2 separate regions of the Homo sapiens genome follow, and region 2 is linked to region 1. The links come from fine-mapping of genetic effects on gene expression. A gene starts in region 1. The other region holds a variant in brackets. All regions are shown on one strand. Distances are between the middles of the regions.

Region 1 (2,922 bases):
AGAAGTCTGGATACCCTGCTGGAGAGATCCTGTAGAAAGGCCAGATGGAGAGAGACCCTGAGGCTACGTGAAGTGAGAGAGAAAGTCCCAGCAGAGCCAGCCTTTCGGCAATGCCCTGCCAAAGTGCCAGACACATAAGTGAGCCCAGTCATGCCCCAAGACGATTGAGGTCCCAGATGAGTTTTGGGGTGTTATACAACAATCTGTAACTAAAATAGCTTATTTAGAAATTTAAAAAAATAACTAATCAGGCTGTCTTGAATTTATTTCAGCTGACTTTCTGAGTTATTTGGAAGAAAATCCTCTAAAGTAGTTTCAAATTAAAAGACACTTTAAACAAAACTCACCGTAGTCTTGCTTTTTCATTTGAATTTACTCATTTTGGCCCTGTGACTTGTAAACTAAACTCATATTTCTACTACTGCAAAGTTAAGTGTTTTGTTTATGATTTTTAGAAGTTGTCATCTATTGATTTTTTTCTTCTGTTTGTAAAGGTGAATGAACTATCCCAATGCTTACCTGTACCAGTGACTTTGCTTAATCTAAGATGTTGATCATTCTTTATGAAGGCTGAAAATGTTATCTAGAGGTGAAATTTACAATGGAACTAAAAATGAGTGGCTAATGGAATAAAGGCCTGACATTTTTCTACCAATTTTTTTTTTTAAAATTTTGGGTGATATTCTTAAGTAAACTTTTTGCTGTATTTCAGGGTTTGGAAGATAACTTGAACCCATATATGATAGGTAAACTAAAAAATCCCCTAAATTTCTTAATCTTTGTTTCTAAAATATTTGTTTGTAAATTTGTTTAAAGACTTGAGACCTTAATTACTTGCTGAAGGTGATTGTTACTTTAAAACTAAGTCTATGAAATTAGGATTTAGTCCTTATCTAAGTAGGCTCTCTTTCTCTTTTTTAAATACTTAAATATTACAAGCTTTGTAATGGAAAGAAATGTTTCTCATCTTATAGTACAGAAGCAAAAATCTTAGTGGAGAATCGTTACCAATTTGGGGAATTTCAATGGTCATAATTTATATCATTGTTTCTGAATGCCATGTTCACACACTCAGATGATTTCTATTTATAACAATCTGGTATAAAATGGAACTCGTTAAAAAGATGATAGAAACCTTTTAGAAATATCTCTAGAAAGTGTACATGCTAATAAATCTTACTTAAAGATTTTTCATTTTAAAGATGTTATTTAAATTATCTCTGTAAATAACTCCAATAATATCTTTGAAGGGTATTTGGAATGGTTCCTTCCTGAAGATTGTAAGAGGTTAGAGTGCACCATTTTATGGTATGTTGACCCCATGTTAATGATAGGAACCTCACAATTTATATAAAAATCAAATGCATCAATCAACACTTACTTAATGGCAATTTAACAATATAATCACAGTATTTCCCCCTGTAGTCCCAGTCACACTGCAGTAGAAGCTAAATTCCTTCCCCAATAGATGCTGCATCGAAAAGGAAATACTGTACCTCAGAGAGGCCGGGACAGGAATTGGGTAGACATGGACTGTCTCCTTATTCTGGAAGGTGCCTGTCTGTATGAAATCATTACCTGGATCCTTGTTGAGAGCACCGTCTCTATCTGATTTCTGGTGAGGATCTTTTCATAGTTTGCCCTGATCTCATTGAGTAGCTGGGACAGTTCCATTCTTTTCCCATCCTCCACCTTGGCTAACTGAACCTTATCGATAGGATGAGTCGCTGCGGCAGTCTGCTCGGTCTGCGCGGAAGGCAGGGAGCCTCGCAGAGTTTTAAAGATGCAGAGCTCCTTTTTCGGAGGCCACGGAAATTCTCATCTTTCTAACTAATTATGCAAATACAGGGTAAACTCTTTGCTCCTATTGTTATTGGTATAGTAGAAATGTCAGATTCTTCATGAAGGAAAGGAAAATTTCAAAAACCTGTACTGGTTCCCTGTAAAAATTGAGCACTTTGAGGGGAGGGGGAGTTCATTTTTGTGAAAAGGAAATGGGGCATAACATAAGAAAATTGCCGGGCATGGTGGCTCATGCCTGTAATCCCAGCACTTTAGGAGGTTGAGGTGGGTGGATCACCTGAGGTCGGGAGTTCGAGATCAGCCTGGCCAACATGATGAAACCCTGTCTTTACTAAAAATACAAAAATTAGCTGGGCGTGGTGGTGGGTGCCTGTAATCCCAGCTACTCGGGAGGCTGAGGCAGGAGAATTGCTTGAACCCAGGAGGTGGAGGTTGCAGTGAGCCGAGATTGAGCCACTGCACTCCAGCCTGGGTGACAGAGTGAGACTCCATCTCCAAAAAAAAAAAAAAAAAAAAAAAAGAAAATTATATTTAGTTTTCTCAAAATGTTGCAGATAAGTGCTGGTAGACTATGAGAGTTGTGAGTTAACATTTCCAAAGTTTTAACAAGGATGAAGAAATAGACCTTTTGGTGTATTCACCAAAAGAACCCTTGAGTCCTTTGGAGGGTGTAGTCAGTGTACCATTCCATCCAATCGTTGCAATCACTTGAGCCCTTCGGAGGGTGTATTTGGCGTATCATTCCATCCAATCCTTGCAATCCCTGACATTTTCTAACCTGTAAAGATGAAAAGACTGAGGCCAGAGAGGTTGAGGCATCTTGCCCAAGGTTGCTCAGTGATGTATGACATCACTGGGACTGGCTCTTTGACAACTTGCTTGTGTTCCATGTATTACCCCTGCATATCTGCCTCTGCGTTCTCTCTCTCCCCTTCTAAATTCCTGGTTTAATCTTGCCAGCTGGTTGCTAGATGTGACAGAAATATGTCGTGAGAGTGGATCTATCATTATTGTTATTTGTGGAGTGGCTTTGGCTGAATTGTATCTGGAGCACAGTTCAGGAGATAATCAGACCTGGGTTCTAGCCCTTACAGGGCCTTTGCATGCATGTCCTGCTCT
Region 2 (2,922 bases), 63 kb after region 1:
AGAATGGGTATGTTCCAGGGGCATGCATGACATGCATTCAAAGATGTTGCCCATTTTAGGTATATATACTTCCAAACCACAAAATTATAGAATAAAAATTTGGGTTTTCTATGTTTTAGTTTATATTAACATTTTAAATAAATTAGTTTTGTGCTATCTTTTATATCTTCTGTATATTATTTGTAAAAGTCACTTGAAATTATAAAAAAATAAAATGGGCCTATCTGATGCAGTTGATAAATGGTGATGACTTATTTTTGGGGCATGCTAGGGGCCAATGGGCAATCTTTGTTCCAGAACTCTCACGGGGCTGACAGAGACTTTGGTCTGCATCAGTCTGCTAACTATCCTGCAAAAGACTAAAACCCTCCCTGGTCTTGCTTTCTCCCTTTTCCTTTCATAAGTATTACTCCTTAGGATAACTTTTGATCCTCAAACTCAGTCTCAGCATCTACTCACTGAGAGTCAACCTGCAACAAAACTTAAAGAAATGAAGTGACTTTCCCAGGGCCAGATATCTGGGAAGTGTTGGAACTGAGATTCCAACTCAGGTCTATGCACTCATATTATTTGCAGAAGTCTGCCTGGATTTAGGGTCAGAACTAGTAGAGTCCTCTAGTGGTAGAACTCTACTAGTTACCAAGAAGCCTTAACTTCATCTAGAAACTTCGATTTCTTGAGCCATAGTTTTTTCACCTGTAAAATTAAGGATAATAGTTCCTGCCCTACACATGGCATAGGATTATCACATCAAATGGAGAGCGCAGAGCACTCTGTAAATTGTAATTCCATATTCAAGCATAAGGTTTGATCATTTTTATTGCTGTTTTCTTGCATTTGTACTGTATTAGTTATTCCATAAGACCATATGTTTCTAAACCGGGAGGTCAGCCTAACTTCATCTATTGAAAGGTCCGTCATAGTCCTCACCATTTTTCTATGTACATTTGGTGTTCCATTTGATGTCTTTTCTAAGGGGCTTATCTTTGAAATTTTTATATATAATTATTTACAAAAAAAGATGTAGACCCTATCTATGGATTCTTTCTGATTTAAGTTTGAGGTTGTATTCAGCTGCTCTCACATACCTTAGCTATTAGGGATTGTAGCTCAGTGTCATGGGTGTGAAGAATACGTTTTTCAGTTTCATGATCTCATATCTTGCTGCTTCAGTGGAGAACTGAGCTGGCCATGACTTACTCTGAGCTATAACATCTTGGCAAAACAGAGCTCTGAAATATACCCCTATTTTATTTATACTTATATATTTGACTAGCTACTCTATTAATTGAATTGTTCTTTAGCTTCTTAATAGTTTTGCTTGACAAAAATGTTGCGTTACGTTTATCAACATTCAAATATTAAGACCGGTCGGCAGCTGGGGCAGCATTCCTTACAGTAATTATATGACTACTAGACTATTCCGCAATCTCATTGCCTAATCAAAAGGAACAGAAAAGATTACATTAAAACAGGAAAAATCTATACTTCTATTTTCTCTGATTTTTTTTTTTTCCTAAAACAAACCCTGAAGAAAATGATTGTTTTGGAGGAGAGGTGGAAAAGCATTGAGGCGTGATTCCCTTCTGTGGTGAGTCACTTTCTTCAGTTTGGTTTCATATTCATTTCCAGGCCAGCAGTTGTGAAAGTTTTCAGGGCATTGCCTGTGTCGTTGACCTCCATTTTGCACTCTA[C/G]ATAAACCCAGTTTTGATGCTGGTGTTTTGGAAAAGTGGTTAAAATTGTTTCAAATAAAAATATTTTCCCAAATGTTTTCTATTAAATTACGTGTATTTTTTTTCCCCCTGATATCAAGTCCAGTAACTTCAGGCAAATTTAGTGAAATTCTCTACCATCTAGAAAGGGATGAAGAACTTAAAGGAAGGCAGATGAATTCCTTCCTTTTTTTTTTTTTTTTTTTTTTTTTGAGACGGAGTCTCTCTCTGTCGCCCAGGCTGGAGTGCAGTGGCGCGATCTCGGCTCACTGCAAGGTCCGTCTCCCAGGTTCACGCCATTCTCCTGCCTCAGCCTCCCGAGTAGCTGGGACTACAGGCGCCCGCCACCACGCCTGGCTAATTTTTTGTATTTTGTTTAGTAGAGACGGGGTTTCACCGTGTTAACCAGGATGGTCTCGATCTCCTGACCTCGTGATCCACCCGCCTCGACCTCCTAAAGTGCTGGGATTACAGGCATGAGCCACCGTGCCCGGCCTCCTTCCTTTTAAAATTCAAAAATCTTAATTTTAAAAAGTCTTAACTCAGAGTAGTGGTTTCTTTAAGATCTCGAATGAGTTAGTGATAGTGCTTGAACAAAGATCCAAGACACCTGCACTTTTATTTGTTTACTGACAAGATGAAGATTATTCTTCCTTACATGGCTTTGTAGATTTTGGTGTTGTATCCAAAGAGGAAATTGTATTAAAATATCTGAAAAAACTGGAACCACATCTTCCTGCTATAAGATACAGATTTTAAAGATTAAAGATGGAAATGTTGATAGCTTCAGAATAATTTATTTTGGACAAGGATACATGTAATGCCCATGTTGCTCATATTGTATATTGTATAACAAGGTAATATGAATATTTCAAACTCACTGTGCTGTTTATGATGAACATAGCAGTTAAAAGTTGGTGCTATTGCTTCATTCATTTACAATTTTTCTATCACTCCATTATTCTGCTTATTTATTATTCTTTTATTATTCAATTTATTATTCTATTCATTTATCAATTATTCTATTTAGCTATTTTATTATTGTTATATATTATACATCTTATATATAATATATAAATAAATATATATAATATATAAATGTAAATTGTATATATATATATTTGAGACAGGGTCTGGCTCTGTTACCCAGGCTAAAGTGTTGGGGAGCGATCTTGGTTTACTGCAACCTCTGCCTCCTGGGCTCAAGAGA

Direction of the effects. Positions count from the first base shown, and alleles are read on the strand shown. Sizes are in standard deviations (SD) of each study's normalised expression.
For the expression in tibial nerve of the gene that starts at base 1,752 in region 1, C is the low allele of the variant in region 2 and G is the other (small effect, 0.27 SD a copy in GTEx).

The links. PIP is the estimated chance that this variant, and not a neighbour inherited with it, causes the effect.
Region 2: its variant is fine-mapped to the expression of KRT222 in tibial nerve (GTEx, PIP above 0.99).

What each region holds. Positions count from the first base shown.
Region 1 is chr17:40,663,426-40,666,347 of GRCh38, forward strand. KRT222 (keratin 222) reads right to left here and starts at 1,752. Exons shown (of 6, transcript NM_152349.3): 1 at 1,579-1,752. The coding sequence starts at 1,674.
Region 2 is chr17:40,726,501-40,729,422 of GRCh38, forward strand. No RefSeq gene overlaps it. Among named protein-coding and RNA genes, the nearest start is that of KRT24, 24 kb to the left of the region's middle. The variant C/G (reference allele first, on the strand shown) is at 1,695.